Linked DNA regions of Homo sapiens: region 2 is linked to region 1. Evidence: fine-mapped expression QTL. A gene starts in region 1. The other region holds a variant in brackets. All regions are shown on one strand. Distances are between the middles of the regions.

Evidence for each region. PIP is the estimated chance that this variant, and not a neighbour inherited with it, causes the effect.
Region 2: its variant is fine-mapped to the expression of GSDME in lymphoblastoid cells (CAP, PIP 0.95). The same link has a PIP of 0.9 or more in lymphoblastoid cells after a statin.

What each region holds. Positions count from the first base shown.
Region 1 is chr7:24,750,341-24,764,736 of GRCh38, forward strand. It overlaps GSDME (gasdermin E), which reads right to left and starts at 7,124. Exons shown (of 10, transcript NM_001127453.2): 1 at 7,056-7,124. LOC124901820 (translation initiation factor IF-2-like) reads right to left here. Exons shown (of 3, transcript XM_047421177.1): 2 at 7,322-7,597; 3 at 5,984-7,229. The coding sequence ends at 6,516. RefSeq lists silencers at 6,674-6,723, 6,734-7,313, 8,124-8,273 and enhancers at 7,394-7,623, 12,990-13,284.
Region 2 is chr7:24,709,472-24,724,813 of GRCh38, forward strand. GSDME (gasdermin E) reads right to left here. Exons shown (of 10, transcript NM_001127453.2): 4 at 9,576-9,747; 5 at 7,783-7,903; 6 at 753-917. Among named protein-coding and RNA genes, the nearest start is that of GSDME, 40 kb to the right of the region's middle. RefSeq lists enhancers at 8,209-8,796, 9,083-9,282, 9,403-9,592, 11,090-11,189, 14,913-15,342. The variant C/T (reference allele first, on the strand shown) is at 8,105.

The DNA.
Region 1 (14,396 bases):
GCATGGTGGGTGACACCTGTAATCCCAGCATTTTGGGAGGCCAAGGTGGGAGGATTGCTTGAGTCCAGGAATTGGAGACCAGCCTGGGCAACATAGCAAAACTCCAAATTAAAAATTAAAAAATTAGCTGGGTGTGGTGGCGCACAGCTGTAGTCCCAGCTACTTGGGAGGCTGAGGTGGGAGGATTGCTTGAGCCCAGGAGTTCAAAACTGCAGTGAGCCATGATCACGTCACCATACTCCAGTCTGGGTGACAGTGCAAGATTTTGTCTCAAAAAGGCAGAGAGCTGGGAATATTTGTTGAACAACAACCTACTGACTATCATAATAGATAGCTTACTTATGACTACTTATTTGAAGGGTCAAAGGTGCTTTTTCTCTACACTGTGTGATTTCTCATATTCAGATAATGAAAAGTAAGTAGCTATGGCTTTTTAACCCAGAAAATAAAGGCACAGTCATACTTTAGCAGGAGGAGAAAAGAAGAGATACATTGGAAGATATAAAAAGGAAAATATTACACTCAAGAGAAGCAGTATAGACTATTTAATAAATGCTGTTGGAACAATGGGCTAACTATCTGGAAAGAAAAAAACTGAATTCCTCTCCCATACCATAAATAAAGCAAATTCCCAATGAAATCAAGAGGTTTCTTTGAGGAAAAATGAAACTGTGAAAGTACTAGAAAAAATAGAGAAATATTTGTACAATCGCAGGATGAGAAGGGCCTTTAGAAAGACAAAGGGCAAACTGAGAAAATAATTGTAATATTTATGAGAGGGAACAAAAATGCTTAACATATTTTTTAAAAACTTTCATAAATCAAGTTTTAAAATACTGTACTCCAAGAGAAACATAGGCAATGGTTCTAAACCATTCACAATACACAAATTGCACATAGCCCAATATATATATACACGCATGTATAATAAGTTACCACATACAAAAAGAAGAAAATAACATTTTTACAAACTATCCATGGTCAAAATGAAAAGCTCTAATGCACAAGAACTGCTTTTTATTTTTGCTTGCACCCTGGCGCTTGGCACAGTTGCACAGTCACACAGCTCTTAGGATTTAAGAGATGAGAATAAGCTCAGACTTTAGCTCAATCCACCTTAACATGAATCTCTTTCGGGGCATGGGAAATCATTTGTCTTATCGATCACTGGTTCTTTTGTACAGTATCTTTTCTTAGATTATTATGAAGCAGTAGCTACCTGACCCTGTTCTTGTATATTAACACTAGGAATGAACATTTAAGGAAAAAATTCTAAAATATGCAAGGAAGTTCCTTTCTGATAAGGTGAACTGCAAAGCAGCATGACTAAGGATGCTCAGGCTGTCATCTGTAATTTATCTGTCACTATGCTATGCATAAGAATCTTGCATTCAATGGAATACTCATTTATTTATTTACCAAATCATCAACTGAATCATTCACTAATTTTTCTTGAGTACCTACTATACTACTGTGTTGAAGCACTTAGGATACAGAAACAAAAAATAATTTCTCTCCTCAATGAGCTACTAGTTTGGTGGCCAGATGGAGAAATAAACAGCTTAGTTTTATGTTAGCTACTGGCAGAGATTGTTCCAGGGAAAGAACCAAGAAAAAGGCATCTAAATCTCATTGGAGAGAGGCATACTGTCACAGAAGTCCTCCTGAAGTCGATGACATCCAAGCTGCATTGTGTAGGCTAAGTAGAAGTAAGCCAGGCAAAGGAGCACTATATGGATGCTGTAGCTGAGGAGCAGCCATTATGAAAGCACAAAATTTGCAGGAGGTGATGGAGGGATGGGGAAGACAGTGCCAAGCAAATGGGTTACCAGTGAGCTTGAGATGGCCCAGGAGACATTGTGTTGTATTGATCTGCCATCCACCACTTTGACAGACTGGAAAGACTGGTCAAGCTCTGAGCTTGACTCTTGCACTGGAATGCAGCATTCCAGAGTGGAGAAGGGCCAGAGACAAAGCTGGGGAGGCCCCCAATCCATGTCCTGCCTCTCCTGCAGGGCAGCCAGGGAAGCAGGTGCCACTGGAGGATCTGTGATCAGAATGATCCCTTAGAAAAATCTTCTAGAAGCAAAATAGCAAAGGGACTGCAGGGGAACAAGATTAGAGATGGACAAAGATGACAACGCTCTGGACTATGTCAGTGGCATAAGGATAGAAAAGACACTCGCTTGGTGAAGGGTGGTGATGAAAGAAAGAAGGCTCCCTGGGGTGTCATGCTGGTATCCCAGGTGCAGGCTGGGAGATGAGAAGGAAAAGCCAGTTACCAAGAGAGGGAATTTGAAAGGAACAGATTTACTTTGCCAAACATGGGACTGGGTCTCCCTGAGGGCCTGTGAGAACTCGTCCTGCTAGTCCAGGAAAAGAGCCACAGAACAACTGCTTTAGTTTACCACTGCTGTCAGGATCTCCACTGTTATGGCTTCTAATTCTTTTCTGGGACAAGCTGAAAGGGAGTTCACTCACGCACTTGCCTTCAGATCACACAGGTTTCTGTAGAAACCAAATCAGGCTTGCCATTAAAAAACAAAATAAAACCCATCTGCTGTGGGTGGGAAAACCTTAGTAAAGACACCAATCCTCCCCCACAGGGATTAGACGGTAAAAAAGAGGAAATTCCTAAATTAATTTTTCATGTTTTTTTTTTTTCCATCTAACATCAAACAGCTAATTTGCCTTCTTGGCAGGGTAGGGTGCTTTAAGGAGAGTAACTGGAGGTGGCTATTTATTGCTTTGTTTATTAGACTCAGACTTTTTAATCATGGGACTCAGAATATTCTCCTGGTGAAGTTAAAGTTGGAGGTTTCTTTATTACTATTACATGTGAATTATACTTACACGGTTCAAAAATCTAAATGATGTAAAGGATACACATTGAGAAATCCCATTCCTGCCCAGGCCCCAGCAACCCTTTCACTCCTCTCCCCTTCAGCCATATTTCCTTCATATTTCTTTATAGAGGTGTAGTTAAAAGGAGTCTGAACACTGCTCAGCATCTTGCTTTCTGCCACATACTCCCTTATGCAGATGTATCATTGCGCATTTTACTTGTCCCATGTTGCTGACCACTTGGGTTATTTCTAAATTTGTGTTATATTAAAGCTGTCCCCAGGAAATACCCCATACGGATGTCCTCTTCATAAACAAACAAATGTATCTGAAGGGTAGATCCCTAGAAAAGAGATTGCTAGAACAATGGGTAAATGCATCTGTAATTGTAGGAGTTGTGCTATTCTGCAGTCTGACCAATAATGTACAAAAGTATCCATCTTAGCAACAGTGTATCATTAGACTTTTGGATTTTTGCAAGTCTGATAGGTGAGAAATGGAATCTCAGCCTAGTTTTAGGTTGTGTTATTTTAAAACAAATAAAATCAAGCATCTTTTATTTTGTTGAAAGACTTTCTGTATTTAACTGTATCCTTTGCTCATTTTCTATTCTTGCTTTTTTTGGCTTTATTTCCAGGAATGTTTGATATAATAAATCTACCAAAATATAGGCTAGGAACAACAGAGTTTATCATGCAGCATTAGGGGACAATACACTGCCACCATCATTCTCAAACACATAAGATAACTAGTCAGCCAGGAAAGATTAAAGAGTATGGCCAGGTCCAAATGAATGAAGGATCTAGAACTCAAGTTGCCCGACACAGACAAGCACAGTCATGTCTCAGCCAAAAGTCAGACTCTGGATTAACATTTTCACAATGCTCCAATTTGGGAGAAGATGAAAATGGCCTCAGGAGGCATCATGCTCAAATAGCTCATGGCCTAAAAACTCACTGCACTTCACAGTTGTTACATAGATCACGGACTCTCGCACAGAGCCTTAAAAGTTATATTAGCAGCCGGGCCTGGTGGCTCATGCCTGTAATCCCAGCACTTTGGGAGGCCGAGGTGGGGCGGATCACCTAGGTCAGGAGTTTGAAACCAGCCTGGCCCAACATGGTGAAACCCGGTCTGTACTAAAAATACAAAAATTAGCCAGACATGGTGGCAGGCAGTAATCCCAGCTACTCGGGAGGCTGAGGCAGGAGAATCACTTGAACCTGGGAGGCAGAGGTTGCAGTGAGCCAAGATCCTGCCATTGCACTCCAGCCTGGGCAACAAGAGCGAAACTTTGTCTCAAAAAAAAAAAAAAAAAGTTGTATTAGCAAACAGTCCTTAGTCTGGCTTCCCAGCTGAAAGCAGATGAGAACTAAAAAGGCCAAAGCAAATGCAGTAAGGATATCCTAGCTTGAGTCAGACTCTTGGACAAGAGACCTTGTGGGGCAGACACCAAGAAAGCAGGACAATGACACAAAGTTAGCAAAGCACACAGCCAACTGGAGCCACTGGGAACAAAGAATCTTAAAAATAGTTGCCAAGGTAATGACTGCAGGAGAAGATAACTATATTCACTACTGCCTGTTAAGACTGATTCAGTCATGGAGTTATCTAGTTTTTAAATTAGAAGAGAAACCTCATTCTTTCTCACACTCCATTCAGGATTCTTCTTAAAAGCAGCTCTGGTTGAACCCTGGGCCTCTGCCTGAAGAGTTCTAGAAAAGAAACTTCAACATCAAATACTCTAGACAAAGAGAGGAGCAACTGTTTGTTGAGTATCTGCTATGTTCCAGGCATGGGTCTTACTGCCTTATACACATTTCCTTATTTAATCTTCATAATAACTCTTTGAAGTAGGCAGTGTGAGGAAGCTGAGGTTCAAAGATGTTAAGTAACTTGCCCAAGATCACAGCAAAGAAAGAAGCAGCCCTATCAGGGAACTGGCCTGGAACTATCAGGCCCTGGTGTTGCTGACCATGAATAATGGCACAGAGCATCAACATCAGGCAAGGCCAGTCTTGTCATGATAAATCAACATGAAAACAAGGCTTCTCTGTAATCATGCCTGAACACAGACAAAACATGAACACGTTCAAAGCACAAAAATGATCAAATACCACCCCCCTTCCAATCATTAGCAGTCCTAATGAGTGACTGCTGCTTCCTGACCAATCACAGCTATAGCCTCTCTCTGGCCTTCTCTCATTTTTGACGAGATTTACGAGGATACTCAATCACAGAACTTCCCCTGCTTCCCTGACCACATCCAATTCAGAGCAAAGCCCTCTTTCCCCAAATCACCTACTACATGCCCAAATCCTCTGTCCTTTCTAACACCTCTTATTGAGACATCTCAGGGTTCCCCATGGTGTCCCTCACTTTAAGGAGAAATAAACCAACTTATTGAACTGACAGTGTGTTCCTGGAGGTCTTTGACTGGAGGGGATTGAACATCACATAGAGAATCAGTGCTGAGCCAAGATTCCACCCGAGGTCCACCTGACTCCAAAGCCTGTGCCCTTGACCACTCTACTCTGCTGGCTCCCTGTTCAGCTTTTTTTCTGTTCTAATGTGGGCCTCATATGACTCATTCTGTAACATAAGAAAGTGCCCTTGAAAAAGGTAAACCTCAGTTACGGTGGAAACAGAAATCATTGCTATGGAACATGTGTCATTTCCTTTCTATCTGGGGAGACGAAACATGGCTGTACTTGTCTACTTGTCTCATTGTTAGCAATTTCAGCATACTTTGAATTAGTTTTAGTTTTCTAGATAGCAAAGTGCAATTGGGTCTATTAAATTAGAACAGAGGTGGCATCTTTTATCTTCCTATCCCTACAGCCCAGTACCTGAGCTCATTTTTAATGAGAAGACAAATTAATATTTCATCATTTCTTTCTAAAATAAAAATCGGTATGTGAACGCAATGATGGTCATAAGACAGGCAGGAGCTCGAAAGGAGAAGGAGAGTGAGGCGCCAAAGGCTTTGGGGAAGTGGAGTGGGTAACAGAGGGCAGTCTGGGTAAGAATAGAGAAGATGCGGTGTGGTGGCAGGCACCTGCGGTCTCAGCTACGGGTGTATGGGAGGATCCCTTGAGCCCAGGAATTCAAGGCTGCAGTGAGCTAGGATAGTGCCACTGCACTCCAGCCTTGGTGACAGAGCGAGACCCTCTCTCAACAATAACAAAGAACCTAGCCAAGGGACCGTGGCTAGGGGGTTGGGCCCTTTCTCTCTCAGATCTACCTAATGGTCTGGGCTCAACTTCTCCTTTAGAAAAAGAGCTTGGTGGTGGTAGATTGTGAAGACAATTAATTTCACTCTTCAGCTGCTTCTCCAACCCCACAGCACTCCTTTCATTCCACTTGGACTTGCCCCACCTGCCTGCGTCTCGAGGACAGCGACCGCAAGCCATCCATCCCTTTCATTATCCCATTCACTATTCTGGACAGAGTAGACTCTGGAGGAGTGGGTGGTCGGTGTGTTCAGTCCACAACCAGCGCTTTTCTAAGAGGTGCCCTCTAGTCTTTCCCCTCGGGGTGCAGACGGCAAGCGGCTCTGGAAAGGGTCAGAGGTCCTCAAATGGAGACCAAAGGAAGCCACGCGGGCAGCTCTTGAGAGCCATTCCAGCGCATGCCAGGCACACCGAGTGGGGCTTGGCCTCCTCCCCAAGCTAGGAGCTCTCTAGATACCGGAGCAAAGTGGAGGGGGACTTTTTTCCGTCCAGAGAGACTGAACTCCGTATCTGTTCCGCGGTCCGCCTCCCTGCACACACGCCCCCGAGCCGGGAGAGCCTCCGCAGCACCCAGAGAAGAGACCGGAACACAAAGGATGAACGAATGGGGAGGGGGGGTTTGGGGGGTTGGGAGAACGAAAATACCAGCTGCGCTTCCAACATCCAAGGAAGGAAGTGGCAGCGGGGACGGGGAGAGGATGGGAAGGGGATGCTGACTGCGAGTTGGGGCGGGACGCGGTGATGGGAGGGGACCGGGCCGGGAATGCGGGAGGCGAGGGGAGCGACGGGACCTGCCGTTCCGGCGGCCGGGCAGCCAATCGATTCGTCTCCCCTAGGAAGGAGCGAGGGGAGGGTGGCCCAGAGAGAAAGCGCCGCGCGGCCTCGGCTGCCCCCGGCCCGGGACACCCAAACAGACCAAAGAGGATCCGGAGTGGAGCCCGGAGCGGATCCCGCAGCCCGCGCCCGCCGCGCACTTACCCGCGCGCCCGCTGCTGGGTCCCCGGCAGCCGCGCCCCCTGCGCTGGCGGAGTCGGAGGAGCCTGCGCTGGGCCGGCGGGGGGCGGGCGCTTGGGGAGGGCGGAGAGAGGGCCCGCCCGCCGGGACCTTTGCTCGGTCCGGGCGCCCCAGAGCCGCGGGACTGGCCGCCGGAGGCTGCGGGAGGGGCCCGGGCCAGACCTCCCAGAAGCCCCAGAGAGAGCCGCTTCCCCTCCTTCGTGTGACTCTCTGGGAGCCGGGTTGCTGACGGCCCAGCGCTCAGCCGGAGTCCCCGCGCGCTTTTCGGGACTCACCCGGGAGATGTCGGGGCCTCTCGGGAAGAGTGGGCTGCGCCTGCCTTCCGCGGCCGCCTCGCCTCTTCGCTGCGCGGGACCGTGGGGTTTGAGAGCGGCGCCTCCTCGCGGGGCCGAACCCGCCACCCACAGTGGAGTGTGGACTGACACCGCGGCCTCACGGTTCAACCAGGAAAGTCCAAGGCCTGTCCAGCCTGTGGGAGCCCCTAATGCCCGTGCCTGGAGTAGTATCTGGGTGTGTGGTGCGACAGTGCCCACACTTAGGCCTGCCGCTAATCAGTGATTCATTCCTGTAAACTCCACTCTAAGCTCCTTGAGGGCAAAACCAGGCGCTCTCACACACTGGGTGCTCAACGAATACTGAACGAGGGAATCTCAGCATAGCTGGTGCTCAAACATTGCTTTCTGATGAACTGACTTAAATATTAGCTCTTTTTGTAACATTAGGACCAGCTGAAACCGATTAACCATTACTTAAGTTGTTACAGCGAGGCAGAGCCAAAATCTCCCGGGCGTGTGCAAGAGGGAAAGCTTTCTAATTGTGAACACCGCGCGCCCCGCAGAAGGCTGCATTGGCATCACCTGGGACTGGTTAGAAATGCCAAAAACGCCTGACCCGCTCCCAGGTCCAGAAGACAGATTTAAGCTTTGCCTCTTGTCTCCTTGCCAGTTGACTGGCAATAGAAGTTTTTCTTTTCTCAAAAGCCTGTGCCACAGTTTGGTTTCTGTGTGCCTCAGGTTACGAGCCCATTGCTCAGTGACACTTTCAGTCAGTGTATCGTCTTCACTGTGCAATGCTCTCTACTAAGCTGAGAGCAAAGAGTAAGAGAAAATGAAATTTCTGCCCTGCGAGAGCTCACACAGTATGGAGTTGTGTGGCTGTCTTAAAGGCTGTTCGGGGAGGGCAGGTAGAGAAGCCCGGCAGCGCTTTCCCTTGGGCCCCGCTATGCTTTAAACATATCTCTAGATTGCAATTATCCACCTCACTGTAAAGCCTTTCCTGACTATCCAAATTAAAAGTGCTGCCCACCCACCCACGGGAACACCTCCTAGTTCCTCCTCTGCTTTATTTTTCTCTTTGCACTCACCACCATCTGATAGACTGTGTGCCTCTTATTTCATGTATTATCCTCTCCTGTAAAATGTCAGCAGCATGAGGGCAGCTGGTCTGTTTTGTTCCCTATGCCCAGCACCTAGTTTAGGATTTGACACATGGTAGCTATCCAGTAAATAATTGTTGAATTAAGAAATGAATCCTTTTGTTTGTTTCTCCACCTAGACTGTGGGGCAGTACACATCCTTGCAGTACCCAGCGCAAAATAAGTGCACAATTAGTGGTTATTGGATGAAGAAGTGGTTCGAAATGGTCCATGGTGGTAGGCCCCTGATTTGCTAATGTGATGAGATGTTGGACGAAAGAAAGAATCCCAGCCCTGTCAAGAGACTTTTCATGTATGCTATTGGTTCTCTATCATTATAAAATTATACGGTGATGATTCTGGCTTGTTGCCAGAGATTATTGCATCCCCCGCTAGGGTACTGACCTTAAGAATATCCTCATAAACAGCATACTCATCAGGTTCCCACCCCAAAAAGCCCCAGTCCTCTATCTAGATAGTTACCACTTGTAATTCAGAGTGGGTGAACTTTTTGATGCAACAGTTACTAAGTGGCTTCAAATTCTGTCACTTTTTTTTTTGTCCTGCCTAGTCTTTTAATTAAATGCCCGAGGAAGATAGTAATAATATCAGCTGCTATTATTTATGTAGCACTTTCTGTCTACTGTCACCAAGCATGCTTCTGAGTACATTACATGCAATGATTGGCTCATTTAATCCTTACAACTATTTGGGGGTTTCAAGTTACAAATGAGGGAATTGAGGCACAAACTGGAATGCTCATACAACTGGGAAGAGACAGAGCCAAGATTTTAACCCAGGTTGTTCAGCACCATCTGAGTTTTAACCCACCATAGGGTAGACTCTCCAGAACAGAAAATAAGAAGTGCAGAAGTGCAGTAGGGGTCCCCCCACCCAAGCAGTGTAGGAGCATGGTCTGTGTTGGGAGAGAGGGATGACTTGTGTTCAAGATCTCACCTGACCCCAGTCTGCTGCTCTCCCTGTCCAATGGTGGGGGGATGAAAAGGTTCTGGCACAGCCATAACTTTTTTAAAAAAATAATTGTGCTTATTATTATTGTTAAATAGACTATTTGAAGATTTCAGATGAACATATACAACATGGAAACTTTTAGCCCAATTGGAAAAAAGTAAATAAAAAGAAAACGTGGAACTCCAATCTTCTTATTCCATATAGATATATCCCCTTTGAGGAAATGGAGGGCTATGGAAAGAAAATCTCACAGGAGATCAATTGGAGTGGTCCTAATGATGATGGTAAGCAGCATCTGCTTTCAAAAAGATTCGTTATATAAACTATGTTTCAACTTACAGAACTTCTGAAACACATCTATTGGGTGTCGTGTATTTCCTACCCTATGCCTAGATTCTTGCTAAGGAAAAATACGCAAAGGGCAGCAAAAGTCAATAAAACTCATTACCGGGATTTATTTCGTAAATGAATACACCAATAAACCAGCTCTGCATGGCTGCCATAATTGCTTCCTAGTTCCTTGAGAACCACATTTGGAGACCTGGACGCTTTCAGATTAATAACCTCTGCAAAGGAGAGAAAAACAGACTTTGGATCCATCAGATTTGGGTAGAATCCAGCCTACCACTTACCAGCTGAGTGACTTTAGGCAAATTGTATAACTTCCCATTTAAAAATTACTTATAACATTGTCATGAGATTATATAAAGTACTCAGCCCATAGTAGCACTCAATAAAAATTAGTTTCCTTGCCTTTATTAATTACTTTTCAGCTAAAGTTGCCTTTAAATTAAGACTACATTTTTCACATATGCATAATTTTGCCTTTTACCATATTGATTGCTTCCCAGAGGAACATAGCTACTAACATAAATTAAAATAAAATTTGGCATACATTGATATATATTTTAAAACTGATTTCATTTACCTCCCTAAATCCCAAAAGTGCTTTTTAAACTGGAGACTGTATTGCCAATGCATATTACTAATTACTGCTTTAAAATAAAAAGCTTTATAGAGGGTTAAATATGGTCCAGAATTAAATCTGTTTCTCTTGGTGTCCCAACCTTCTCTTATTCAATTGCAAGGCACGGATACAGATAGGAGAAGAACTGAAATTACTTGGCAGCTAGCAAATGATCAACCAATATTGTCAAAATCAAAAGTCTCAATGCAAATATTATTGGACAAACAAGGAAATGTGAAATAATTTGCTGTCCCAATTATCAACTGCTGTATAACAAACTACCCCAAAACTTAGTGGCTTGAAACAACAACCACTTTACTATATCTCACAATTTTGTAGGTTAGGGCTTTGAGCAGGGCTCAGCTGAGTGACTCTTCTGTTCCATGTGCACTGACTGGGGTCACTCAGTGGAATTTAGCTGGTGAAGGTGAATGGCCTGGTTTGGAGGGTCCTGGATAACTTCACCCATGTCTTTGCCCATTCGGTTTGCTGTAATAAAATACCATAGACTGAGTGGCTTATAAACAACAGGACTTTATTTCTCACAGTTCTGGAGGCTGAGAGAGAAGTCCAAGATGAAGGCATCAGCAGATTCGATGTCTGGTGAGATCCTGCTTCCTAGTTCATAGATAGTGACTTCTCAATGTGTCCACACCTGGTGGAAGGGAAGAACAAACAAAACAAGTCCCTAAGTCTCTTATAAGGGCACTAATCCCATTGATGAGGGTTCCACCTCATGACCTAATCACATCCCAAAGGCCCCACCTCCTGAAACTATCACATTGGTGATTAAGTTTCAACATATGGCTTTGGGGGAACACAAACATTCAGACCATAGCATCTCATGTCTAGTGCACTGGCAGGGATGCCTTGAGGGTGGGACTGAACTTGAGGGTTATCAACCAGAGCCCTACATGTGGCCTCTTCATCATGGTGGTTTTTGGGAAGTCAGACTTCTTATAGTGGAGGCTCAGGGCTCCAAAAGCAAATGTTCAAGAAAAAGAAACAAGGCAGAAGCTAGAAGTCTTATGACATAATCTCTAAACACCCAGAACGTAATTTCCACAACAAGCCTAGATTCAAAGATAGGGGTGGTATATTCTACCTCTCAATGGGAGAAACAGCAAAGAATTTCCAGACATCTTCTATCTGCCGCCCTTGTTTTCATGAAAGAAAGTGGCATTACAGGATAGGCGCAGTGGCTTCTGTCTGTATTCCCAACACTTTGAGAGGCTGAGGTGGGTAGATCAGTTGAGCCCAGGAGTTAGAGAGCAGCCTGGCCAACATGGTGAAACCCCATCTGTACTAAAAATGCAAAAAATTAGCCAGTGTGATGGTGCATACCTGTAGTCCCAGCTACTCGGGAGGCTGATGCAGGAGAATCACCTGAGCCTGGGAAGTTGAGGGTGCAGTGAGCTGTGATCGTGCCACTGTACTCCAGCCTGGGTGACAGAAACTGTGTGTCAAAAAAAAAAAAAAAGCCATAAAAGAAAGTGGCATTACATAAACAAAGTTAGTAAAAACTTCTGTATTGTTTGTCCATTGTTCATGGAGAAACATACGTTATTATCAGCATTAAGGAAATTTGTGATGAATACCAGTAGTCAGCCACCAGATGTCCAATTTACAGAAATATTCAAAATAATATGATCCAGAGATATACAAACTTTTTTCATCTGATTATCGTTATTTTTAAATATTGTCCAGTATCCAGGTGAGCTATACCCAGCATAGAGAAGTAAAGCCCATGCACCTAACATCTTTTTAACAAATATTTATTAGTGACCTACTAGGTGCTGGGTGCCATATTAGGTACTGAGGATATAAGGTGACCAACGAGAATGTGCTTCATGCCCTCCAGGTCTGTGGGCTTTGTAGTATAGCGGGAAAGGCAGACAGATAAACAATAAGGATAGAGGATGAGAAGTACAATGATCAGCTGTCCTTGTTAGGGTAAGCTAACTGCTAAAATGAAGTCCCAAATTATAATGGCTCAAATACAATAGTAGCTTATTTCCTACTCGGTAAACAGTCTGACTAAGGTACTTCTAGGTTTTGGGTGGGGTGGGTGGGGAGGAAGAACCACAGTCCTCATTCCTTCAGGAATCAGGCTGGGGGAGGCTCAGCTCCAGGTTGTTGAGGTTGCCCTGAGCATGGACACCTCGGGCAGATAGATAAGGAAAGAACCCGGAGACTCCCTCATGGGAGATTTTTATGGGAGCGGCACTTTCGGGTACAGGATGCATTCCAACACTCCCAGTGGATGCCTGAAATGGAGGATGGCACCAAACCCAGCCAGGATCAACTGGAACACGTTTCTGCTCATGTCTTCCACCACAAATTCAATGCCTTTTTCATCTTAAGCAAGCACTTACATCACATAGCGGCCATAACATTTGCAGTTCGAGGTGAGATAGCAAAACTAGCACAAATTTCTTTTCTCTTCTTTAGTTTCACAGAGAGATTTGGTTCTTGAAATAGATCTTAGCAACTTCAGCATACAATTTTTTTCTTTCCATATTGAGAACTTTCACTTTCTCACTTTACAGCTTCTCTTTGGAATATCCCAATTGCCCGCATCATTACTATTGCACAGAGGGGCCATTACTAGATAAAATAAGGGTGATCCAACTCAAACACTGCAATGTCATGACAGCCAATCTGATAACCTAGATGGCCACAAAGTGACCAGCAGGCAGGCGTGTAGACAGCATGGATATGCTGGACAAGGGATGATTTGTGTCATTGGAGAGGACAGGGCAAGACAGCATGAGATTTCATCATGCTACTCAGAATAGCACAAATGTAAAATTTATGAATTGCTTATTTCTGGAAATTTCCATTTAATATTTTTGGATGGAGACTGATAGTGGGTAACTGAAACCACAAAAAGTGAAACTGCAGATAAAGGGAGCCTACTGTACCTTCCTTTGGCCAGAAATCAGTCACAGAGTCTCTCCTAATTGCAAGACAGGCTGGAAAATGTAGTCTTTGTGCTCCGGAAAAAAAGGAACTGGGTTTCGAGAGCAGTGGCCGACACAGCTTTGTACAAAATAATTTTAGAGGGCAAATAGGTGATGGCCAAGCCCAGAGCTTTTGTAAAGAATCCCAACTAGGGTAAACCAGACAGCTGAACTGATTTAAATGACATATTTTTGGATTGTATAATACATTCTGTTTTTTAAAACGAGCCGTTCTTAATCTTACACCTGATTCCAAGAGTTATCTAAGAATACAGGGAGAGACTGGTGATAGAGTGGGTGTGGTTGATGTTTTCATCTATAACAATTTATTACTGATACAACTTCTTAGCTGAGTTATAATTGGAAGGGGAGTATGAGAATTGTGTACACACTTGTTGTTTGGTAAGGTCCTTAAAAAGACTAATTGCAATGGAAAAAGCAATTTGGCAAGGAAAATTATCCTGGCACCTGACTCAATCTTGACTGATTGCTAAAAGCACCAGTGTAATAAATGTGTTTGGTCTGAATGATGGAAAAGAAAACAACCCTGCAAGTAGAGCTTCTGTCACCTTAGGCACCTGTGATATCATGAAAGCTTTCGTTTCAAACTGTTGGTAGAAATGGAATTTTTTTCTAATACTATATGTTGAAACCTTCAAGCTTCTTTTTTTCTCCCCCAAAGAACTGTACCTGTCATTTCATTCTGAGGCTCCATCTCTGTAAGGAGTCTAGACATCCAGTGGGAATGGGCACACAGGGACTTCAGAAATCAAGTCAGCTTGCTTTCTGCAAGTAAATCCATCTTCTTTTGCTAACTTTCTTATATTAAAAAACAATAAAAAATCAACACCACCCCAAACCAAGCAAATCCCAGTGTCAGTGTGGGCAGCCAACTAAGACATGGCTGTTTGATGATTTTGGAGTTGGTGCAAATGCTACGTTTGAGTTCCAACTCTGCCTCTTACTTGCTGTCACCACTATTCCAAACC
Region 2 (15,342 bases), 40 kb before region 1:
AAAGCATCCTGGTTTGGGACTCATCGAAGCTCCACAGATGTAGTCACCAGGGCTTCTGTGCTTACCCTCCAAGCCAGCGCGCACACGGAGCGGTTCCTAGCTCTTTGTGCTAAGCTCTCACCTATTTGTTTCTCCTTTTCCTTGCCCATCTCCTCCTATATGCTGCGCCCCCACATCCCCGACAAAAGAAACCAGCTTTCTAAAGCACAATACGCTGTGAGGAGCAAAAGGAATTGCTGCAGGCACATCCTGGGCATGGCCCCTCTTCCTCTTTGGCACCATGCAGTCCATGCCATGTGGATAAAGAGCCTCCAAGAGAGCATTTTGCAAGGCTGACAAAGCATTGCTTGTCTTGACAATGAAGCCCAGAATATAACAAAACAGATGCAGAACGGGTTCTCCATCCTCGCGGCTGATGAGCCATTCTTAGTAGTCAACAGGGCTTCTGTGCTTACAATGAAAGAAAAATGCCAAGCCCCTGACTGCCTCACTCTTCAGTCTCCGACCCCTACCCCATGGAGCGTCATTCTCCCCACCCTTCCTAAAATACAGCACCCACAACCTGGGGCTCCCTAAGATCCAACCGAGGTGAGTCCTGCCGAGTGGACTGGGCCTCGGCGGCATCACCTCTCTTCTCATATGTTTTCTGTGAGTCACTGAGGGGTCACTGATGCTGAAGGCCACACCACCTCTTGGGATACAGGGCTCAGTTGGCCCTCAACTGCCCACTACTCCTGCCCTGCTGGCAATACCTTGCTTTAAAACACTTAATGGTCCATCCTGGGAAGATATCCCATGCGCAGCATCTGGCATGTCTATGAATGCAAACTCTCGAAAGACCAGGGGGTCCAGGTAGACAGAGTCAATTCTCTTCTTGTTCTCGAAGCCACCTTGCTTCCCTCGGAGAAGGCAGAACTCTGTAGTGCAGGAGAAAAGGACAAGTTAGGTAAAGTTGAGTCTAAGGTGTGCCAACAAGTCTGGACAGGGTCAGCCCAGCCTTGATGGCACATCTTAGACGTAACTCAGTGGAGCAGAAGACCCATCCATCTTCCCCATAAAATTCGATCCCTACACACATTATGTTGCTTGACCAAAAGCCCAGCCACTTCCAACAAATAAGGAAATGGCTGTTCTTACATAAAGCTCCCTAATATATATTCTCTGAACAGGCTGGACACAATCTTTAAAACATTGGAAATATTATTTTATCCTGATTTGAACAAACTGATTCTAAACAGACAAATGAAACCTGACATGCACAAAACAACTAGGAAAATCTGAACACTGATAATATTTTAAAAGTATTGCCAGTATATTTAGGTGGCCAAGTAGTTATGTGATTATATTTTTAAGAAATCAATGTTTCTATAATATATAGAATAATATACAGCAATAAAAAATAAAATACTGATGTCTGCAGTTATATGAATGAATTTCACAAACATGTTGAGTGAAAAATGGCAAACACAAAAGAATACATTCTCTCTGAATCTGTTTCTACAAAGGCAAAGCTAGTCTTTTTTCAAAAGCCTTATCATTTCAAGGTACTAAAATATTTACAGATGAAACAATATAATGCCTAGGATTTGCTTCAAAATAATCCAGCAGGAGAGGAAGGAGATGGTGAAGTTATGGCTAAAACATGAATTGCCCTAGTCACTGAAGCTGGATGGTGGGCACATGGGAGCTCACTACATTATTATCTCTACTTTTTAACATGTGGGAAATGTCCATAATAAAAAGGTTTGTTTTTGGTTGTTTTGTTTTTGTTCTTTTTGAGACAGAGTCACTCTGTTGTCCAGGCTGGAGTGCAGTGGTGTAATCTCAGCTCACTACAACCTCCGTTTGCTGGAAGCGATTCTCCTGTCTCACCCTCCCGAGTAGCTGGGATTACAGGCACCTGCCACCACACCTGGCTAATTTTTGTATTTTTAGTAAAGATGGGGTTTCACCATGTTGGCCAGGCTGACCTCAAGTTGATCCACCTACCTCAGCCTCCCAAAGTGCTGGGATTACAGGTGTGAGCCACTGCTCCAGGCGATAAAAAGTTTTTTAAATAATAAAAAGGGCCGGGCATGGTGGCTCACACCTGTAATGCCAACACTTCGGGAGGCTGAGGCAGGCAGATTGCTTGAGCCCAGGAGTTTGAGAGTAGCAACATAGTGAGACCCCGTCTCTACAAAAAAATTTAAAATGAGCTGGGCATGGTCACACATGCCTGTAATCCCAGCTGCTCTGGAGGCTAAGGTAGGAGGATCCCTTAAGCCCTGGAGGCGGAGGTTGCAGTGAGCCAAGATCGCACCACTGCACTCCAGCCTGGGCAATAGAGCAAGACCTTGTCTCCAAAAAAAAAAAAAAAAAAGGCAAAGAAATGTTTTCTCAAACACTTCCATATTTGAGAACCCAGCTAAGGTATCTAAGGTGTAGATAAAAATGTAAGTTATTACGTCCTTGCTAAGCAGAAACAGTAAATGAGCTCAAGAATTAGCATTCTCTTTATGATTCTATTTACTAACTTGTGTACGTAAGCAAAGGCTATGGAATAAAAATGTGGCAGGGCCCCGTATTTGCTGAAATGTAGAAGGCATGAGTATTAGCAAATATTTTCATTTGCTTGTGGGCATTAATGATGCTCATAAAGATAGAATGGAAAAGAAAAAGAAGAATGGCTGTCTAAAGACAAAGGAAACGATCCCTGGGCTTTACCCACCTGGCCCACACCAGCATTCAGGCTGACCCTACTCCTCCACACTTTGCGCTTAGCCACAGGGGTGCAGGAGTGTGAACCAGCACCTAGGTCATAACTTTGTTCCCTGAGGACAGGAGCCTTGACCATTCACACAGCCTCAAATTCTGCCAGAAGCCCTGCCAGGTCCCCAAAATAATGTGGAACCAACTGGCATTTTAAGAATCCACAGCACCAACCACACACCACACTCTCACCTTCACCCATGCATAGCTCCCTGAGGGCGCCACCAATTAATTCCTTCATTCTTTTCATCCATCCATCCCCAGCCAGCCAGCCAGCAAATATGCAACAATGTAAATCTTTAAAATTCCCTATACCAGGCCCCGTGCTCACAGCCACAGATACAAAGGACTACAACCAGGCCTTGACGATGAGTGTGGTAAGAGTGGGGACAGCGGTTGAACAGGGCTGAGGCCAGAGTGACCAGCGGGTGGAGGGGAGGAAAAACATCTTTCCTTCTGCTCATCCTAGGTTCATGGCTGAGGCCCCTATCACAACAGACAGATTAACAAGAGAGGCCAGGCACGGTGGCTCACACCTATAATCCTAACACTTTGGGAGGTCGAGGCGGGCGGATCACCTGAGGTCAGGAGTTTGAGACCAGCCTGACCAACATGGAGAAACCTCGTCTTTACTAAAAATACAAAATTAGCCGGGCATAGTGGTGCACACCTGTAATCCCAGTTACTCAGGAGGCTGAGGCAGGAGAATCGTTTGAACCTGGGAGGCGGAGGTTGTGGTGAGCCAAGATCGCACCATTGTACTCCAGCCTGGGCAACAAGAGTGAAACTCAGTCTCAAAAAAAAAAAAAAGGGAAAAGCACGCAACTTTACCGAATAGCAGTTTTACATGACATGGAAGCCTTCATAAGAAAATGAACATGTGAAAAAATAGTTAAATTTGAGTACTTTTTTGCTAGGTTTGAGGGACAGTGGTGGAGAAATGTGGCAGGGCAGAGCATATGATGGAAAGGCCATTCATCCAGGAACTCAGCAAGGCCTGTCTCTTCACCTCTCTGTGTCCTGTGTCGGGAGACACGGCTGCTCCTTTCCTCCAGGCAGAGGGACGGCGCCTCTCCCCTGAGGGTCTGTAACCTGCATCAGGGGAAGGTTGGAAAATCCTTCAGAGGTTTTATGACCTGCTACAGGGAGAAGGGTGAGGGGAAGGTCACAGTGACCTTCCTGCTTCTGTCATCTTTTCAAATTCCTTCACTTTAAAATATCTTAGGACTGCATGTCCTGAACCCCGTCACAGGGAAGGAGAACCAGAAAAGCCATCTGATGGTTGGGCAGGAGCAAAAGAGGCAGAGAGCACGCCCAGAGAGAGGCGCAGCAGGCCTGGGGGTGGGAGAGGGTGTGCCATGCCCCAGACCTCAGTGAGATCACGGGGCAAGTGGCACTGTGACCAGAGGGAAGGCACGAGACCCATGCTGGGCTGGCCCATAAGGCGTGACATGGTGCAGACTGCATTCTTGGGACAAAGAGCCACAGAAGGGTGTCTGAGCAGGTGAGTGAAGTGGTCAATTTTAAAACAATCCCATTAGCTACACTGCTAGGATGGAACAGACAGGAAAGAATCAGAGTAGCCAGTTACGAGTCTGTGGCAGAGCCCCTGTAGTCCCAGCTGCTTGGGAGGCCAAGGTGGGAGGACTGCTTGAGCCCAGAGTTCAAGGTTGCAGTGAGCTATGATCCCGCCACTGCACTCCAGCCTAGGTCACAGAGCAAGGCCCTGTCTTTAAGGAAAGCGAGGTGGGGAAGCAGGGAGATGGTGTTAGGGCCAGTGGGGAGACGTGCACAGATTCAGGTGCAGCGTGGGAAACAGGTTCACGCCCACAAGGCATCCAACTGGAAGTTGGTGCTGAAGGACGCTAGCAAATGCCAAGATGTATAAAAGTGCAAGGCAGAAGGTCAAGAGAATGAAAGGGTGTTTCTGATTGGGCATAAGTGTCTCCTGAGAGGGGAGCTGTGGGTGAAGGAAAGGGTCTCATTGCAGCTGGCATGGCTGAAGCACCTGGCCGGGATACAGATGGAGTCTGCCTCCCTTCGAGGTTTCAAAGGACGACCAGGATCTCTGTCAAATGCAATCCCACCAGGAAGGTAGGGAGAGAGAGCAGGCATGTCTTCTCAAGGGCCCTTCCAACCACTGCAGGTTTATGTCTATGAAGCTATACCAGAACATTCTGTAGCAAGAGCAACAGAAAACGGATGGGCAAAAAAAAGAAAAGAAATAGCAGAACTGGTTTAAAATCAGGCAGTGAATCACCCAGAACGATGACCTGACCACCAAGCCACCATAGGAAGGAGCCACGGAGCTGCCTCCTAGGCCAGGATCCAGAACGAGCCAAGGGAAGGCCGAGATATCCCCAGGGTACCTCTTCTCAGCAGCACAAAGAGGAGTTTATTTTCAAAGACAGTGGAAGCTGGAAAAGATAAAAGCCTTGAAATTGAAATGCAAACAGGAGAGCCCTGCCAGAACAAGGCTGTGTGTCTTTCAAACCCCATCTGAGAAAGAGAGGCTACCTCCACAGAGCTGCGTCAGGGCAGGGTCTGGTCACCTCCTGGGACAAACAGGAGGAAGCTCGCATGGGGACCACCACCTAGAGTGGCAGCCCAGGCCTGGGTCCCCGCCACCGAAGGGTCCGCAGAGCACTCCTGGGCATCCTCAGGTGCATGCCAAGATTTCAGAAAGCGTTACAGAAGTGACGCATCCTTCACTACAGCCAAGATACGGAAATAATGTAACTGTCTGTTGATGGACAAATAGATAAAGAAAATTGATGTATTTACACAATGGAATACTTTTTGGCCATGAAGAAGAAGGAAAGTCTCCCATTTGTGCCAACCTCGATGAACCCAGAGGACAGGATGCTAAATGAAATGACCCAGGCACAAAAAGATGCATATCACATGGTCTTCCTTATACATGGAACTGAAAAAAGCTGAACTCACAGAAGCAGGGGGTAGACTGGTGGTTGCCAGGTGCTGGGAGAAATGGGGAGATGTTGTCAAAGCATGCAAACCTCCAGTTGTAAGCTGGTAAGTTCTGGGGATCTAGCATGGTGATTATAGCTAATAGTACTGCAGTGTTTACTTGAGACTTGCTGAGAGGGTGGACAGTAAGTGTCCTCACCACACACATGCAGAGGGTAACCATGCTGGGTGATGGATGTGTTCATTAGCTTGACTCAGTAGTTATCCCGTCACAATGTCTATGTCTATTGAATCATCACTTGTACATCTTGAACATACAGTTTCTGTGTGTCAATCATACCTCAGTAAGCTGCGGGGGAGTGACACATTCACCACTGGCCATCAGTAAGACTGGACAGGACCACCAAGGCAGACATAGGGGGGCTAGAAACCCAAAAGTGCAGATGGTGACCCTACTTACCACATACAGATAACAGAGACTAGAAGAACAATTTGATCCTCTTCATGATGCACTTTTTTTGGAAGACAAGTCTTTTCAAAGAGAAAGATGACAATAATAACGAAAACGCCCCAGAGGACACAAATTTGGAACTACGGGCCTCAAGGAAGCCACAACACCTGGTATTCTCAGCATTTCTTGGTCCCTGACAGACCTCTTTGACCAACTGCTTCAAACTGACACTTTCTCTTTCTGTCACCTCAGATAAATCATTTCACCGCCCTAAAATGCAGGCTTCTTCATTTGCAGAATGAGAGAGGGAGACTCTGTGCACTCCTTCTGTGCCTCGCCTGTTTCTCCTAGGGATCCTCAACACCCTTCAGCTTGTGGACAGCAGCACACGAGGACACTGAGCATTCTGTTTGAGTCCCTCTAGTGGCTGCTGAATGGCGTAGTGACTCATGTGGGCTTAGCGAGGGCAGGAGCTGTCTCACGGGAGACTGCCCCCCACCCGCCTTCCACAAATGGGGGAGAAGCAGGAGGCAGCAGCAGGCATGTGCGTGGTCTATCACGGCCCTTTTAAAAACTGCTGTTACAGAAAATGTCAAACTGCACAGGAATAGAGAGGAGGAGCGTGAACCAGCGTGTGCCCATCAGCCAGCTTCAGCCACTGTCCCCTCTCAGCCAAGCCTCCTTCCCTCGGCAGCTGCCCATGCTCACACCCTTTATGCTCCACTCATATTATTTTTGAATCAAACCACAGACATATTACCATTTCATCCGTGAATGTTTCAGTGTACATCTCTCAAAGATAGGATGACTCATTTTTATAAATATAACTATAATACCATTGTCACACCTAAAAAACTTCACAATTTATTATGTTACATTTACCCACTCATGTCCCTAAGGAGCGGTCACACAGCTTTCATGAGTGAACACAACCTCTTCTCATTGGGAACATGAGGAGGGAAGGGGCTGTGAACACCTAAAGTGAGCAGACACGCTGAACCAAAGCTTGGATTTTCTTCCGTGACAACAGCTGGGTCTCTGCGCTTTGAACACACTCGTGATCAGCAGAGGAAAGTCAAGTTCAGCATGTCTGGCTTCATACTTGTGGAGAGGAGGTGGGGTAACAATAATGATGATAATGCTATTAATAGCAAAGGTGGAGGAATTAATAAATGACCACTGTGCCAGGCGCTTCATAGGCCTCATCTCATTAAATCTTCACACAGCCCTGTGAAGAAATGCCCTTCACCTTCCAGAGACAGGGAAGCCAAGACTCAGCAAGATTCAGCAACTTGCCTGAGACCTCATAGGACATCATGGCACCGGGGTTGATGCCCAGTGTGTCTGATGCAGAGCCCAGGTTGATGCCCAGAGGACACAGCCCAGCCCTCTACTGTGCTGGTGGAACTTTGCCCCACACCAATGTTGGAGGAGAGGGTGGCATTGCTCCAGGCATCCCTCACCACACCCCTCCCCCAGTGCAGCCCATGTGTCCAGGGACCATGTCTTGGGACAATCTACGCTCTTCAGACCTCTTTCCCTCTCTTCCCACAGTCTCCAAAGCAGTCGAGTCCTCTGGAAAGCAGTCAAGTCCCTCTGCTGAGGGATCCTCTGCTGGGGATCCCTCAGCACCCATAGGAGGTGGCACTCACCGAACTGGCCGTCCAGTTTCACGTATAACTCAATGACACCGTAGGCAATGGTGGTGGCAGCTGGGATCTCCAGCACCACGTTGGAGTCCTTGGTGACATTCCCATCCTCCGTCGCTGACACCTGTGGGCAAAAGCGCACACTCCCACCTGTGCACTCGGGCTCTCCAAGCTGCTCTGTTCCCCACTGCAGCCAGCCTCGTGCCTTATACATAAGAGATGCTGAGCAATGTCCACAGAACCGAGTGGAACAGAGGAGCCAGCCAGCATGGGGGATGGGGGGATTCAATCCTTGTTGGCATCAGTACACAAATTCCCAAGTAAA[C/T]GGCCAACCTGGTGGCATCAAAGCGAGATTATAGAGCGTGGGATACAGTGAAGTTAGGTCTACAGTGCTGTGCAAAGATCATACGATACGTAAGATCACCTCCCAATTCCCTCCATCACAGGTTATGGAAACAACTGAAATCCTAATGAAAACCTTAAACAGTAGCCAAGTTGGACTGGGAGAACCTAGCTGAGAGGGCCCCCTACCCCGTGCATATCACTCCAGACCCCTGTAGATGGTGCACAGTGCTGATAAAACCAGGAACAGAGAGGGAAGTGGGAAGAGGCCGGAGGGAGGAGAGGCAGGAAATGCCAAGAAGTCAGGCACCAAGCTCCTGCCTTTAAACACTCTCACAAACAGGACCCCTTCCCACGATGTCCTGGTGAGAGGAAGATGAGAATCTATTTGTTGGCCAAACACTGGCAATCAGAGAACTTTTCTTAGCAACTTGATCCTGGTCAGAGTGTGTTGCTTTGGGTTGAGAAATGGCAGCTGGCCTCCTGACTCTGAAAGGCTTCAACACTTTGGCAGGAAGTGACTGTGGCAGGAGCACCAGCAGGGCCGGCCTGAGCCATCTCCCATCGGCGCCTCCCTCGCTGCTACCCAGCCCCAACCCAGTAAGAGTGCTGGCCCCAGACCTCTACCTCCAGCTCCTTCCAAATACAACTTTCTGAGTTCCTCTAGAAAAAGCCAAAAGTCATCCCAAGAAGTAAATCTCTAAGAAAATATCAGCCACCATGGCAAGCTGGAGGAGAAAGAGTTTGGGGCTGATGGCCACCTAGTCCATTGAAGTTTAGTACTGGCTCACAGATCAGCTTGGTAAGACTGTCAATAACTTAATCTAGAAGAATCTATGTAGAGATAGCTAGATCTTACCTGCCCTAACTCAACCCACAAAGGATTTGCAGCAGCTAATTCCAAGTAATCACTGTGAGAGCCCCAGCTCTGAGAGGCTCTAGGGATTCTTTTGCATTTGGCCTGATCAGTGCCTGTGTGTTCATTTTTCTTGGGGAAACATCTGCCGCCCACAGGAAGAGCACCTGACGCCAGCCCACCTGGCCCATTCGAGTGCCTGCAACCCTGCCCTGCTTCAGGAATGAACATATCCCGGGACGGTCTGGTGAGACCCAGTCCTAGGCCCCCCTCACCCCTGGAGTTGCAGCAAATCAGGAGCAAGCCTGGAGCTGCCAGCACCATAGGGAGAGCCCATCTGAGAGGGCATCAACCCAGGGAAAGCAGCTCCCTATATATCCTCAAGGCCTGGATCCAGCAGTGACTGGAGCCAGTTTCCCCAAGTGTTTCAGCTACATGAGCCAATACACTCTTGCTCATTTAAGACAACGTGAGTTGGGTTTCTGTTAACTTGCTACGGAAAGAGTCCTGACTAATGAAGACACCACCCAAAGAGGCCCCCAACCAAGGTCTCCAGGACTGCTCAGCCATGAACGCAGGGCAGCCCGACTGCACGCACCTGCACCGTCTTGGTCTGGATGCCCACGATGCCACCACACTTCTCCTCGACCTGCATGTGCTCAGAGATCACACACTTCTGCATCGTCGTGATCTTCTGTGTCAAAACGCACAGGACCTCATTCCTTCCTTCCAGCACCTGCTGGAGCACAGGGTTTCTCAGATTTATTGTTCTGAAAAAGAAAAACGGATGTGAGTGGCTTAGTGCCTCAGGGGACATTGGTGTAGTGTGAATTTCCTCTTGCACAGCAGGCAGCTGAGGAGTGAGCAGGTGACAGCCAGGCTTTGTTGATTTCCTCATGATGAAAGGGGTGGCAGGTCACCTGGAAAGACATAAACCAAACTCTCTTGAGGCCACCTCAGAGCTGCCGGGCCTCTGGGGGCCAGGCTAGATGCCAGAGGGAAGGGGGCTTTCAGTCAAACAGCAGCGCCGGTTGTCAAGGAGAAGAAAAGAAAATCAACCAGGGCCAGGCGTGGTGGCTCACACCTGTAATCCCAGCACTTTGGGAGGCTGAGGCAGGCAGATCACTTGAGGTCAAGAGTTCGAGACCAGCCTGGCCAACATGGTGAAACCCTGTCTCCACCAAAAATACAAAAATTAGCCAGGCGTGGTGGCACACACCTGTAATCCTAGCTACTAAGGAGGCTGAGGCACGAGAATCGCTTGAACCTGGGAGGCGGAATTTGCAATGAGCTGAGATCATGCCATTGCGCTCCAGCCAGGGCAACAGAGCAAGACTCCATCTCAAAAAAAAAAAGGAAAAGAAAAGAAAACTAACCAGGAAGGAAACTGCAATCCATGTACCTTAGACCCTGGAAACTCCACTTTTTTATTTAATCAGAGCTGAAGGATGTCAGACGTCACAGCCATGGCCCAGGGAATACAGGATTATGATGGGAGGAATGGTGACCAATTGCTTCTCATTGAGAAAGGAATAGGCCTAAAGTATGAGTAGCAAGAAGGAAATTAGATTTGAACTAAGAGGAAACTTCTTAACCTGTCTAGGAAAGATGTTTCATCTCTTAGAAGGGGTTTGATGTCTTTTTACACATGGGGAAACTGAGGCTGGTTATGCATGGCCTATCCAGAGTCACTCAGCAGAGATTTGGGGCTCCCACCCAGCCACTTGAAATTCTGCAAACTTTCAAGAACAGACTAAATTTTTATTTACAGGAGATGATTTCATGCTTAGAAGCAAATGATGAAATAACTTCTCTGGAGATCTCATTCAATACTATGATTCTATGAAATGGACAGGAAAAGAACCAAACTAGAGTTGGTGACAGCACAAGAAAAATTATGGTATCCATGCTGGTCTTTTTTTAAGAGGTTAGTTACCTTGAAAAGCTCAGCACCCATCCCTGACCACACACATGCTGGGTCACCCATCCTAGACAGACTCAGGTTCTCTGGGCTTCAGAAAGTAGCCCTGGAACTGGAGTGAGTAGCTAGGAAAGTCCCATCTCAATGTAATCACCTGCCCAGAATAGAAACAACTCACGTGTCCATCAACAGATGAATGGAGAAACAAAATGTGTTATAGTCATATAATGAGATATCATACAGCCATAAAAAGAAATGAAGTTGGGCCGGGCACAGTGGCTTATGCCTGTAATCCCAGCACTTTGGGAGGCCGAGGCAGGTGGATCACCTGAGGTCGGGAGTTCGAGACCAGCCTGACCAACATGGAGAAACCCCGTCTCTACTGAAAATGCAAAATTAGCCAGGCACATGCCTGTAATCCCAGCTACTCAGCAGGCTGAGGCAGGAGAATTGCTTGAACCCGGGAGGCGGAGGTTGCGGTGAGCTGAGATTGTGCCACCGCACTCCAGCCTGGGCAACAAGAGCGAAACTCCGTCTCAAAAAAAAAAAAAAAGAAGTGAAGTTCTGACATCTGCTGCAACATGGGTGAACCTTGAAGACATTATGCCAAGTAACACACTCCAGGGACAAATGAGCAATATTGTGTGGTTCCTCATATGAAATATCTGGAACAGGCAAATTCATAATGACAGAAAGCAGATTGGAGGTTACCGGGGCTGCAGGGCTTCGCTGCCTGATGGCTGCAGAGTTCCTAGTTGAGGTGACGAAGAAGTTCTAGAAATGCAGAGTAGAGATGACGGCACAACAGGGTGAATGTATTTAATGCCACTGAATTTTACACTTAAAAATGGTTACAACAGTAAATGTTGTGTCTCATCTATTTTACCACAATAACAAATAGATAAGACATAGGAAAAACGGGTTCAATCTTAGTACTGGTTAAGGAAATTCAAATTATAAAAATGTCTCACACGTGATAAAAATACATTGATGACAACCACAAAGCTGCCGAGAGACTCCATTTCCAGGAAGGAACAGGAAACAGGGACCCTGGAGCCTGCAGGGCTGGGGTTCGGATCTCAGCTCTGCCCTCCCACTGGGCAAGCTCGAGTGAAGGGCCACCTCTGCACCTAGGTTTTCTCGTGCATGAACTGTTGGTAACAGGGCCCCCTCCTCATGGGGTTCCGTCAGGGTTTAGATGACATGCATGCAGTGAGCCATTAGGGTGTGCCGAGCACAGAGTTAAATGCCACACAAACACTAGCTGGCTCCGCCCACCTTCCCGTGTCCCTCTATGAGGCTCACAAAACAAAGCCACAGTGTGTGCCCTGCATGGGAATTATGGGGCACTGAATTGAATCAGAGGTACGTTTCCACATCACTCCCTTCTTAAAAGCCTTCAATGGCTATATCCCATGTCCAGTGCGTTCCCAGGCTGAGGCCCCATGTGATCTGCCCTGCCCCCTGTTGACTTTATCTTCCAGCCTTCTTACTACTCCTTAAAAATGCCAGGTGTGTGCCTACCCCGAGGCGTTGGCACACATTCCCTGATGGCCACATTTCACTGACTCATTGGTCACCTCCTCGGGGAAGCATTCCCTGCACCCCCATCATGCTATCACACCCTAAGATCACTTCTCTGGAGAGCACATTTCCACAGGATATTTTTCTAGCTCATTCATTTATCTGCTCATGGCCTGCCTCCTCCATCAAGAATATAAACCCCACAGAGGTGGTGAGTGTGCTCTCCTGTTGACTGCATATCTCAGGGCCAGGATCAATGCCTAGTACGTAGGAAGAGCTCAGGAAATATTTTTGGAATAAATGAGTAAATAAAACTTGTGAGGTTTTTTCCTCTATTGGTTGAATGAATGTGTACATATGTATTTGTGCATCCACGTGTGAAAGACAGAAGACACGGAAGATGGGGGAAATGGAGGATCTGCAGCTTGGATCAAAAAATGGTGCATAGCAGATGCGATCTTCCTAAGGGATTGCATGTCTTGGTCCCATAGGCAAAGACTTTAAAGATAAAAGCCATTGTAACCACCGGTCAGAACATACATTCAACTGTTCCCTTTCCAATGGTCTCTTCCTTCTATTGCTCAAAATTCTAGCAGATTCTTGAACGTCTGTCTGTGCCCTCACAACTAAGGCATGGGCTCCTCCCAGCTAGACGCACGTCAGACACATCACCGCCTGGTGACGACCCCACAACTGCCGCCTTTAGGAGTCTGATGTGACTCTGCTGGATTGGAAATCACAGCCCTCCTACCCGCCCTAAACAGAATCCACTGAACACTGGACACTGCTCCTAGCCAGTGTGAAATTGTTTGAAAAGAAAAAGCTCAGCCTAGACTACTCAAGACTCCACTGCTTAAAATGCCCACCTCCCTCCAGAACCCCCACCTCAAACACCAAAAGAGAGGGGCAGCCATCTACGCAGGTGGGCAGGCAACTGCCTGCTGTATCCGATGACAGGGCAGTCCTGAGACGCTTGCTGAGTCGCTGCCTTCAAAAGGTCTCTGTGGGGCGGACCCACCACAGCGCAGGAACAGAAGCTCGCCCAGGGACGGAGACTGTCTCCAAGGCTAGGATTCGGGTGACCAGAAACGTGTCACACAGCCACAGCTCATGCAGGCCACTGGGAATCCTTCCCTGGGCAACCAAGGCAGGGCTGCCGGAAACTGCAGGCATCATCCACCTAGCAGCAAACACTTCCACCCAAGTCACTGGGATTCTGTTTCCCAGGACAGTGCTGCCACCTTTTGGAAACCAAATGCTGGAAATATTTAATCATCTTCAGTTAGGAGAGGCCCCACAGGGACAGCGGGGAAGCTACACATCAGGGAAAATGGATTTTTCGTTTGACTCTCTGAAAAGCAATCTCGGGAGGGAATTCTTCCCCATCTCCTCCCTCAGTCAATTCCACCAAGCCCCAAGCAGCCCCAGGGGGAGAGCTGGTGTCCCCTGGGGACGGTGTTCTCAGGTGCAGACCCAGAACAGTTCAAGGTCACCAGACCCTGGCTCTGGCCCTCCTCAGAACAGAAATCACCATGCAACAGGGCTCCCCTGTGCCCGCCTAGTGCAGAAACCAGCCAAATTTCAATGCAATTTGTTTACTGTATAACCTTATATATTTTATTATAAGCATTTAAAGAGGCCCATGGGTTTCTTCAACTGCTAATAGAGTTCATGAAACAAAACATTTAAAACTCTCAGTTGAGGGTTTCAGAAGAGTTTAAAAAAAAAGAGCCTAGAGAGGTTGATGGTAGTAACCAAAGTCACACAGCTGTGAAGCCCAGGTCTTTTACAATGGCCCACATGGCCATAGCACCCATAGCTGCTGTCTCCCTCTTCTGGGTGAGGGCACCCTTGGGCTGTACTAGGAATTGAATCTTCATCTCTATTAACTCTTGTATTGCTATGTTCATTTCTATATGTAAATATCTTGCCTATGTAACCAGACCAGTAGATGGAGGCTGGAAAAGCAAGTTATACCCAAGTCCTCTGGGAATCCTTATCAGAATATCCATGCCTGCCTGTTCTCCCCAAGCCCATCTCACTCTCCTCGTGGCTGCCGCCCTGTGCCATTTGACAGTTCTTCCCCAACTTGTCCTGATTTCTTTCCTCTCGGGCCCTGTGAGAGCCACTGAGCAACACAGACAGAATGGCTTTAGAGACACAGAAAACTATTAGTAGTGGTCGCCTCTTGGGTGGGGAACCAGATGGCGGGGAGGGGCTTTTCACCTTTTCTCTTTTGACCTTTTGACATTTAAACCATGTGAATAGATTGCCCAGTTCCAAAAAAAAAAAAAAGTATTTTAAAAAAAGGCCTTCTGGACAGACTGTAAGCTCCTGGAGGACAAAGTACTTGCTCTTTTTATTGGTGCCTAGCCCTGTGCTATCCACCCAGCTGGGGGATAAAATGAATGGTTTATCACATAAACCCGGGCAGGACTGGAATGAGACCCTCTCCCCAAGTCCAGCCAGGAGCCAATGCCCAAAGACAGGGAAAATGGAGCAGAAGCTCTTCCAGGAGAAAATGAACAAGCAGAGGTTCTTCATCCGCTTCACACATCTAAGGGCAGGCTCCTTGTTCTTCCTGGCGGGGGCGGCAACGTGAAAGCAAGAACAGGAGGCCACTGAGGCAGAGGCGTATATCCTCAACAGAAAGGGCCAGCCCCAAAGGAGCAAGTCTGGAGGCAGGGGAAGGGGGTGCATACTCAGTCGAGAAGAACTCCCTCTCCTCACTCAGGGGCTTGGCTCAACTCCGCCCACCCAGTTCTACTGTGAGGTTGCCCTTCTGCGCGTACCTGGCAGGTCGATATAACACAAAGACCTGGAGTCATCCCGGAATCGGTTCCCTGCTCCAATGTGGTTTAATGTTTGTCCCTTCTAAGTTTCATGTTGAAATGTGATCCCCAGTGCTAGAGGTGGGCCC